Regions from separate parts of the Homo sapiens genome. Here region 2 is linked to region 1. Evidence: fine-mapped expression QTL. Tissue or cell type: cerebellar hemisphere. Region 1 holds a variant in brackets; the other region holds the start of a gene. All regions are shown on one strand. Distances are between the middles of the regions.

Evidence for each region. PIP is the estimated chance that this variant, and not a neighbour inherited with it, causes the effect.
Region 2: it holds the start of LRIT3, and the variant in region 1 is fine-mapped to the expression of LRIT3 in cerebellar hemisphere (GTEx, PIP 0.96).

The regions. Positions count from the first base shown.
Region 1 is chr4:109,024,605-109,029,757 of GRCh38, reverse strand. All of the region lies in intron 5 of COL25A1 (collagen type XXV alpha 1 chain), which reads left to right. All of the region lies in intron 1 of LOC124900756 (a long non-coding RNA gene), which reads right to left. Among named protein-coding and RNA genes, the nearest start is that of ETNPPL, 260 kb to the right of the region's middle. The variant C/T (reference allele first, on the strand shown) is at 2,382.
Region 2 is chr4:109,845,905-109,851,057 of GRCh38, reverse strand. It overlaps LRIT3 (leucine rich repeat, Ig-like and transmembrane domains 3), which reads right to left and starts at 2,951. Exons shown (of 4, transcript NM_198506.5): 1 at 2,741-2,951. The coding sequence starts at 2,856.

The DNA of each region.
Region 1 (5,153 bases):
TAGACAATATTATCCATATTATTTTTACATAGTAGTTCCTTCTTGTCCAAGGCGATATGTTCCAAAACCCTCAGTGGATGCCTCAAACTGCGGATAGCACCAAATCCTATACGTATATGTTTCTTCCTACAAATATGTATACACATATACCACACACATACACCTATATAAAGTCTAACTTATAAATTAGCTACAGTAAGAGATGAACAACAACAATAATAAAATAGAACAATTATAACTATATACTACCATAAAAGTTATATAAATTTGGTCTCTCAACATATTTTACTGTGCTGTACTCGCCCTTCCTGTGATGATGTGAGATGACAAAATGCCTACATGGTGAGAGGAAGTGAGGTGAATGACGTGGGCATTGTTGACGTAGCGTTAGGCTACTATTGACCTTCTGCAGGTGGCATATACAGCATAGATACATTAGACAAAGAGGTGATTCATGTATTGGGCGGGATGGAGTGGGATGGCATGAGATTTCATCCCACTACTCAGAATGGTGTGCAACTTAAAACTTAGGTATTGCCTCCCTCCTGTATCATTGGTTTTTCCTCTCTTTTGGATAATTTCATTAGCATAGAATTATGCCATAATATCTTTTGTCCTCAAAATGAAACTTCCTTGACCCCATATGTTTCCCAGATGCTGTTCCATTTCTTTATAGCTCCCACTCCCTTTTACAATGAAACTCTGGAAAGAGTTGCCCACACTCATCAAATATTGTTTTCCCACTCTCTCTCTAATCTAACATGGCCTCCATCTCTACCACTGTACTGAAAACATTCTTCTTAAGGGCACTGGTTACCTTTATTATGACAAATTTAGTGGTCAGAATTCAGTTCCAACTTTGCTGGACCACATTCAACACAGTGAATTGGTGTCTTCTTGAAACACTTTCTCTGTTTATCTCCTTGTTCTTATCACTCTTTCAAGGTGCTCCTCCTACCTTACTCACCACTCCTCCCTTGCTAGCTAGTCCTTTTTCTTTCTTTTCTTTTCTTTTTCTTTTTTTCTTTTTTTTGAGATGGAGTCCCGCTCTGTCGCCAGGCTGGAGTGCAGTGGTACAATCTCGGCCCCCTGCAACCTCCGCCTCCTGGGTTCAAGTAATTCTCCTGCCTCAGCCTCCCAAGTAGCTGGGACTGCAGGTGCATGCCACCATGCCCAGCTAATTTTTGTATTTTTAGTAGAGATGAGGTTTCACCCTTGTTGGCCAGGATGGTCTTGATCACTTGACCTTGTGATCTGCCTGCCTTTGCCTCCCAAAGTGCTGGGATTACAGACATGAGCCACTGGGCCTGGCCCCTTTTTCTTCTTCATGATTTCTACATGTTGGAATGGGCAGGGCATGGTGGCTCATGCTTGTAATCCCAGCACACTGGGAGGCCAAGACAGGAGGATTACTTGAGCCCAGGAGTTCAAGACCAGCCTGGGAAGCATAGCAAGAACCTGTCTCTACAAAAAAATAGAAAATTAGCTGAGTGTGGTGGTACGTGGCTGTAGTCCTAGCTACTGGGGAGACTGAAGTGGGAGGAGTGTGAGACTGCAATGAGCTCTGATTGCACCACTGCACTCCAGCCTGGGTGACAAAGTGAGACTCTGTCTCAGTGAATGAATGAATGAATAAATAAATGAATTTTGAAATGCCTGATGGCTCAGAACTTGGACCTTTCTTCTTCCTTATTTACATTGCCTCATTAGATGATCTCATATAATCTCATGGCTTTAACTATTATCTATGTGTCAAAGTCTCCCAAATGTATATCTCCAGTCTGAACTCTCAGAATTTTGGACTTGCATATCCAACTATCTATTCAACGTTTGCACATGGATGTCTCCTAGAGATCTCAAATTTAGCATGTTCAAAACCAAATGCTGGAATTCCACCCTTACTCTCCAAAGCTGCTCCTCTTCCAGATCTTCCACACATCACTAAAGAGCAGCTCCACTGCTCTAATTGCTCTGGTCAACCTTTGGAGTCATTTTTTACTGCTCTTTTTTCTCACACCCCACATTCAATCTAGTTGCAAGTCTTGAACCAGAAACTGACCACTTTTTACCTCCTTGGTTGCTATTACCCTGGCCCATCCCATCCTTTATCTTTCACTTAGAATGCTACAAAAGCCTCCTAACATCTCTCCATCTGTACACCCCTGCCTTTCTACTGCCTTTTCCCGATAGTGGACATGATCCTTTTCAAATATAATTCAGATTGTGTCCTTTCTCTGTGCAGAACCTCCTCGCCATGGCTTTCTATTTCATCCTGATTAAAAGCCAAGTTCTTATCATGACCTGCAAAGTCTCTCTGATCTCCTCCCTCCTGCTCTGTAACTTTCCTCCTTACTCTTTTTCCTCACTCACTGTAGTCCAGA[C/T]GCACTGTCAGTTGCTGGACACGCTAAGCACACCTCCATCTTACAGAGCATTACCACTTGCTGTTTGTTTTTCCTCCTTTTTTCCATTCAAGGCCCCCCCATGACCACCCTGTAAAATAGCGCCCTCCCATTGAATTGTTCTCTAGCCTCCTTATCCTCATGTACTTTCCTGCTGAGTCCTTATCGCTGTCTGCCACATTATTCATAAACATTCTCTTAAAGCCTGCTTCTCCCACAAAAGTGATAGCGGGGCTTTGTTTTAGCTACCATATTTATTATAGTCCTAGTACCTGAAGAATGCCTGCACACTGTAGGTACTCAACAAATATTATGTGAATGAATAAATAATCAATTTTATTCCTCTCACATCTGCCCCATCCCTAGCAGACTTCTATTTCAGAGTCCTCTGAGATTTAAGGAATGGAATACATCCATTTTCTGCCTCTGTACAGCAAATTGATCTGTATTTATTCTCACTTTCTTTCTTCTCATCTTATATAAGATGGTGTTCTTTCTCCGCATTCTTCTTCTCTGACTCCACTTCCTTTTGTGTTCTCTTGCATGCTGATACTGCTCTGCAAGCCATTTCTTTTCTCTATGTCCTGTCCGTTTGTAAACATTTTCAAGTACCTCCCATCTTACCACAAAAACAAGCAAGAAAAATTTTCCTTAACCCTATATGCCTTTTAGCTACTCTCCTATTTCTTTTCTTCATGCACAGTTACTAAAAAGAGGTGTCTACTTGGGCTAGCAAATCGTCGGCACACATGTTTTCCACTGTTGCTGTCTGTAGACATTCCCTATCAATCCCACACCCTTTTCCCAAGTCTATAACCAGCCTCTGAACCTTTAAACATGTTATTCCAGGCAGTCGTTAATAACCAGAGTTCACACTTCATATAACGCCTGCTTGCCATCTACGGAGCTTATTCTTTTCTTAATTTCCTCACCTCACTGCTTAATCAATTACAATACAAATTCCAACTTTCTACTTGTTAAATGCAATGGACTCCTTGTTTTAATCAATTTGCCTTCTTGAAATTCTCTCCAATCTTGATTTCTGTAACTCTAATTTTGTTGTCATTGTTTTTAGGTTTTTTTTATCCTCAGTTTCCATTTTGGAACACTTTTCCTCTCCTACTCTTGAAATATTTACATTACATTACATTACCCCTAGTCAGGGGTTCTTAACCCAGGTGAATTATTTCCTAGAGAACCCGCGAACTAATTTAAGAGTATATGTGTGTGTGTGTGTGTGTGTGTGTGTGTGTGTGTGCAAAGTGTTTTATATGTGGATATTTCTAACCACTGCAGCTATAGCTTTTATCCAGTTCCTAAGAGGGCTAAGAATGACTGCTACTTTCTTTCTCGGGGTAATCTTGCCCAAGCCCATGGGCAGCCAGCATGACACAAGTGAGAGCTCAAAAGGGTCCAAGTCAAATAAACCCATGTTCATAGTTTGAACTTCCCCTTTTAGAAGCTGTTTGACTAAGGAAACGTTATTTAACCTCTCTGAAACTTGGTTTGTTCAACTGCAAAATGGTAGAAATGACCCCTAATTTGCAGGGTTATTGTAACAAAGAGAGATGACATTTGTAAAACTCTTGGTGTTGTGTAGTGGTCAGTAAGTGGTAGCTATTACGATTCAGCCACAAACATCTGGGTCCCTCAAGAACATAAGCTTGTCAGCTTGCAGAGCCTCTCCTCCCTCATTTTAAAACAGGCTTCATTTTTAGGATTCTGCTTTAGTGAAGCAGTAAGCATGATGTGACTCATGCATTATAAATTAATTGACTCTCTGGGTGTTAGAAATCTGCTAGCATGCATTTATTAATGTGAAACATCTAGGACAGCTGCAGAGAGCATTGTCAAGTCTGTCTTTGTGCACAATATTTAGAAAATCAGAATTGGGCACATATAAATTTAATCAGACTGAAAGATGTTTATAAATTGGCTTCCAGTATTTATCTGGAACAATCAACATAGCACACATTAAGAATGTTATTAAACATAGCAGAAACCAAATTACTCAATATATACAGTGTAATAAAAATTGGTAGGGCAGTAAAAATTGCCTAGGTATGTGTTTTTAAAGCAATGGAAGCTGAGCAGGTCTCTTTTCAGAGGTACTTCATATATGTTTATTGTATCCTACTAAACATGTCTGTAAAACTGATCATTTACTTACACCTTGATTGCCAATCCTGATTCCATGCCAGCTGGTGAAAAGGCTTGGATAAGCAAGATGTTTTAGAAGCTTGACAAACATTTATAGTCAAAAGTGTAAGTTATTTATACAACTCCATAAAATAATGCAGTTAAATTACAACCCAGATATTTTGGTTTGCAAAACAGCAAAGGATCCAAGGGCCTCTATGCCTAGCAGGGATCCCCAGTTGATGTGGAGTCATGACCTCTTCTCGCTGGTGTTTAACTGTATAACTCTTCTGCCCCTTTCTTTATTCCTACTTCCAAAAGTGATATGTGGCATACAGAAAGGTAGATTTAAAACCCTTACTTACTGAATTTTTGAGAGCATATCTTAAGCATTTTGCAACATTCTTCCAAGTAATTAAAAACACCCTGAATTGGAAGAAAGAAACTCGAATTCAAAAATCATTGACCTAGATCTTTGAGTAAATGACTAATATGGAAAAAAATTAACAACTTAATTAAGGGTTTAAAAGTTTTCTGCAGTTAATTAGTTATCATGTGACAATATATTTTTGTAATCATGAGATGGGGCTAGTAAAATTTAGAGAAGCATAAAAA
Region 2 (5,153 bases), 820 kb before region 1:
CTTAAAGTGCACCTCTTTAGGAAATGGCCCATTTTAAAAGAACCCCCTGTTAAAATAATAAATCAATCCTTGTTCAGAGAATAATTTATTTAGGTGAAAAAAAAAAGTGTTCACAGTACATGTTTAAAGTTGAACTCTGTTTTAATAACGTGACTTGCACATTGCTTTCTGCCTAAGGAATAAACCAGAAATTAGGAGTTGACCTTGAGCAAGTCACATTTTGATCTTGTTTGTTGGCACATATAAAACAGGCATAGAAAAACAACACTGGGCAATGTCCCAGCTGGGCAATGTGGCTCATGGCTGTAATCCCAGCACTTTGGGAGGTCAAGGTGGGCAGATCACCTGAGGTCAGATGTTTGAGACCAGCCTGGCCAACATGACGAAACCCCGACTCCACTAAAAATACAAAAATTAGCCAGGCGCGGTGGTAGGTACCTGTAATCCTACCTACTCAGGAGGCGGAGGTGGGAGAATCGCTTGAACCTGGGAGGCAGAGGTTGCAGTCAGCCAAGATCACGCCACTGCACTCCAGCCTGGGTGACAGAGCGAGACTCCATCTCAAAATAGAAAAGAAAGAAAGAAAGAAAGAAAGAAAGAAAGAAAGAAAGAAAGAAAGAAAGAAAGAAAGAAAGGAAGGAAGGAAGGAAGGAAGGAAGGAAGGAAGGAAGGAAGGAAGGAAGGAAGGAAGGAAGGAAGGAAGACAACACTGTCCCATGTGTAAATTTAAAGTATGAGGAATCTGAGAATTTAGATTCATTTTAGCCTGGAAAAAGACTTATCTCCTATGAGATACTCATCTGAATTATGAAAAATGAACAATAAGAAGTTTTGCAAAGTATCATCTAAATTATAGCACACTATAAATTTAGTAAATAATTACAATAAAATAACCCTTTAGTGAAACATATGACATTAAATCAGTGGATTTGAAAAACCAGCTCATAATGTATACACACGTAAGCAGCATAAAGCTGCAATGTAGTGGTAGTGTTATGTCCTTTCTATAACTTCAGGAAAAGACCTCATGGAATCTTTGAAATCCTCTAGGGATATCTCTTACTTTTCATCTCTATTTTATATCACAGATTTCAGTACTACTTTATACCAGAATGGTAGCAGTTTCTACTCATTAAGAAAGTATTGGCCGGGTGCGGTGGCTCACGCCTGTAATCCCAGCACTTTGGGAGGCCGAGGTGCGTGGATTACCTGAGGTCAGGAGTTTGAGACCAGCCTGGCCAACATGATGAAACCCCATCTCTACTAAAAATACAAAAACTAGCTGGGCATGGTGGCACACGCCTGTAATCCCAGCTCCTTGGGAGGCTGAGGCAGGAGAATTGCTTGAGCCCGGGAGATGGAGGTTGCAGTGAGCCGAGATTGTGCCACTGCACTCCAGCCTGGCTGACAAAGTGAGACTCTGTCTCAAAATAAATAAATAAATAAAATAAGTATCTCAGCATGCTATCATAGAAGAAAGTCTAGTTTGTACGCTAAAAGATCTAGCATCTTTATGAACTTAGTTACTACATCAACACAATTATATGATCTAGGACAAGTCATTTGGTCTCCATACAGTTTAGTTTCTTCACTTATAAACTGACAAGGGGTTGAACTAGATTATTTCTTGCCAGGCCTAATATTCTATAATTTTTATAAAATCCATCAATAATGGGGTCACCACAAAGAAGGAAACATTTCTGTGATAGTTTCTCAAAAGTACCCTGGCCTGATCCTTCACTGCTACACGTCCCTGGACAAGTAGGTCTTTAACTTGCTACATTCTCTTCATTGTCTTTAACCACCCAGTGAATATCTCAAAAAATACCAAGAATTGGTTAACTAAAGTTTATACAATAACAAGATAAGCTTTTCACAAATATGTCTTATTTATTATTATTTATTTGTTTAAAGTTATAAGACATAAATTGGGCAACTCTTTTAACAAATTATTTTATCTGAGACACCGTTTACTTCAACCAAGTCACAAATAACCTGATTTTGTTATTAAATAACCTCTCAAAAAAAAAATTCAAGTTCTACTGTGTTTAGCTAGCAAGAGTTCTGTTTTGCATTTAACATATCTAAAAGGCCTCATGCACAATATAAGTAAATAACTCTTCTCACTACACAAGTAGATGCTAAAGCAACCTAGAGATTGAATAACTTCTGTGAGATCCTGCAGTGTCTGAAACAGACAGTATCTTTTTCAATCTTCTTTATTTTGTAAATTCCATCAGCTTAAAATGAAAAATTCTAACTATTAACCTCTCTAACTTCACTCTTGAGATCTTTCTTTCTGCCATTCAATTGGCATGAATAGTTCTCAAAGGAAGTGGAGAGCCATGAAAGCAAAGGATCTGAGCATGTCACGCAGCTCCTGTTCAGCCTGCCCTCTTAGCCTTTCTATAATCAAGGGCTTAGCTGGCCATGCACCTTTAAATCGTTTGATCTCAAGCAACAATTTGTGAACATGAGCATAATAAAAATTTTGGAACATAGAATGTGTTTAGAAATTTCCAATACCTTGAGAGGCCTTTGAGAGTTAAACTGCTCAAAACGAAAACAGTGAAGGAGTAGGTGACCAGTGTTAAAACAATTAAGTTAAAGCTTATGGACACTAAACATTCTCTTCTGTGATTTCTGATCCCCAAACATTTGCTTTCAAAAGTAGGCTTTCTTGTTTGGGTCCTTTTTGTCAAAATAATGAGAACACTTAGTAACAAGCAGAGGAGCATACCTTGATCCTGAGCCGTCATTTCTGCCGTGATAATCACAGGTGCACTGTGAAGGACACAAACAGCCCACTCCTTCCAAAAAGCTAAGGACAATGCACAGACATGCAAAGAGATGCATTGCTCCTTTTAGAGGTTATTTAAACAAAAGGTAAAAACCGAATCCTAAGCATTCAGAACCTGGTATGCCTGGAATACAAACAGCCATTTAGTAACAGCAGATTACACGGGATTAGCTGAGATCTGTAGTTACTTAACCTTCAAGTGTATCTTGCAGGAGATCAATTGATCCAGCCTTTGAATACAGTTTCAGCAAAGTAACACATTCTAAGGAAAATGAAAATCAAACACATGACAAGCAATTTCAATAGTTACCCGTAACTAGATTTGCAAGAAAATGCCTATTAAATCCCTTTCTTCTGGATGTACTTGCCACTACACCTTAAAAATATACTTAATGTAAAATAATTCAGTCTTGGCAGATGCAAGAAAATTCTGTAGATTATTTACATGTTACAACATTATAAAATGTTTTGCATTTGGTTTTTGCCAGAATGTGTTACTAATTCAGTTTTACAAAATTTAGTTTTAAAAATAGAAGCACATGACATAAAAATGATTTAGAAAAGAGTTATCGATGTTGCCACATACTGGCTATCTCTAAAAGTAAAGTAAAACAAGTCAGTTACACAGATTTTATAGGGAAAATGCTTCAATCCACTACTGATGTGGCAGGACTAAGTTCTCCAATAAGAACGTGTTCTGAGACTCTTCCAGGTCATCTCAGTGTGTGGAAGGTTTATCCCAGCACATTTATTTTTAATGCAGGCAACTATCTCTGTTCAATAGTTTCCCAAGTTATCAGCATCAAAGCCATATTTGAAGATCAACTCTAATTCTTTCAGCTATATTAGGCTCTGTCAGAAAATAAAAATTAAATGTAATTAAATTTAAAAGTATCTCCACACTCATAGAGTGGAGAATCCACAGGGACAATCAAGGATTTAAGTAATAAATATACGTCATTTAACCTTCTTAGTGGCTGCTTCTAACCATCCTCTTTAACTAAAAACCTTTTTAAAAGAAAATTAATTCTATAAAAATAAGCATATTATAGAAAATGTTATTTAAAACCAATAGAATGTATATAAAAACCATACAGTCTGAAAAACTGTGCTCAATTAAAATAAAATACTGCAGGTTTTCAGATTCTGCACAACTCGTTTGTTCATCAAATATTTACTGAGTACTTATTCTCTGCTGAGCATTGAGGGGTACAAAGATAAATAAGACAGTTATTACACATAAGGAACTCACACGATAAAGGGAGGAACAGACTACTAAAGAAGCACGAGAAAAGAGCATCAAACCCAGCCTGTGTTAGTCAAGCAAGACTTCCTAGGGTGGGTGGTGCCTGGCTGCCTTTTACAGGGTGCATGACGATGTATTATGGGAAAATCCAGAAAGTTGCATTGCAAGCAAAGGGAATAGTGGGAACAAAGGGAGGGAAGTGAGAAACAGTGTATTGTCCTCAGAGAATTTCAAGCACTTCTTGTTGCTCAGGCATAAGATTTTGAGGCAGGAAGTTAAAAAAGATAAAGCTGGAGAGATAAGCGGGGATGAAGTTATCAAGGAAACCCTTAGATTCCCTATGGAGAGCTTACTCTCAGCCTACAGGCAATGGGAGCAATAAAAGTTAGGCTTGGGAGTGGCATATCAGCTTATCCTTTCAGGAAGAATTCTCTGGCGGCTGTGTGGAGAAAAGGTTTAGACAGAGCAAGCAAGAAGAAAGGAGGAAGCTTCTAGATAGAGCAAGCAAGAAGAAAGGAGGAGGCTTCAGGTGGATGTCTGTGGTTATAGTCCAGGTGAGCAGCCATTAGGCTACAGCCTTGACTGCTGTGCTAGTAATCGTTAGGATAATGCAGCTTCAGGAAACACCCAGGAGAGAGAAATGATTGATTAGACGTAAGGATGAAGAAGGGATTTAAAAACAACCCTAAGGTTTCCCAGTGCTGGAGATGCAGTGAGAGGTGGTGGCCTCGAGTTTTTGAGCACAAGAGGAAAAAGAAATTGGATGGGTAAAGCTCTGATCGCCAAGTGACCAAGGGTTTTTGAATCATTAATTTCATGGATGTTATGACTTACATGGAAGCAAGACGTGCCAAATTGAGCATAGAAACGCTGTTTAAAGATAAAAACATCAGAAATTAGCAAACTAAGAGGTCAGAGGGAACTATGTAACCAAAGCCAGGTCTTCCTAGTTTTATCATATAAGCAAATTAAAAAATAAATAATATAGCATTGAAATATAATTACTGTACACTGTTGAAGTCCTTTATATTTGAGGCAAAGTTGCTTCTTGCTTATCGCTGGAAATGAGTTCACAGCCTTGCAAATTGGAACTCTGAGTCCATTTTT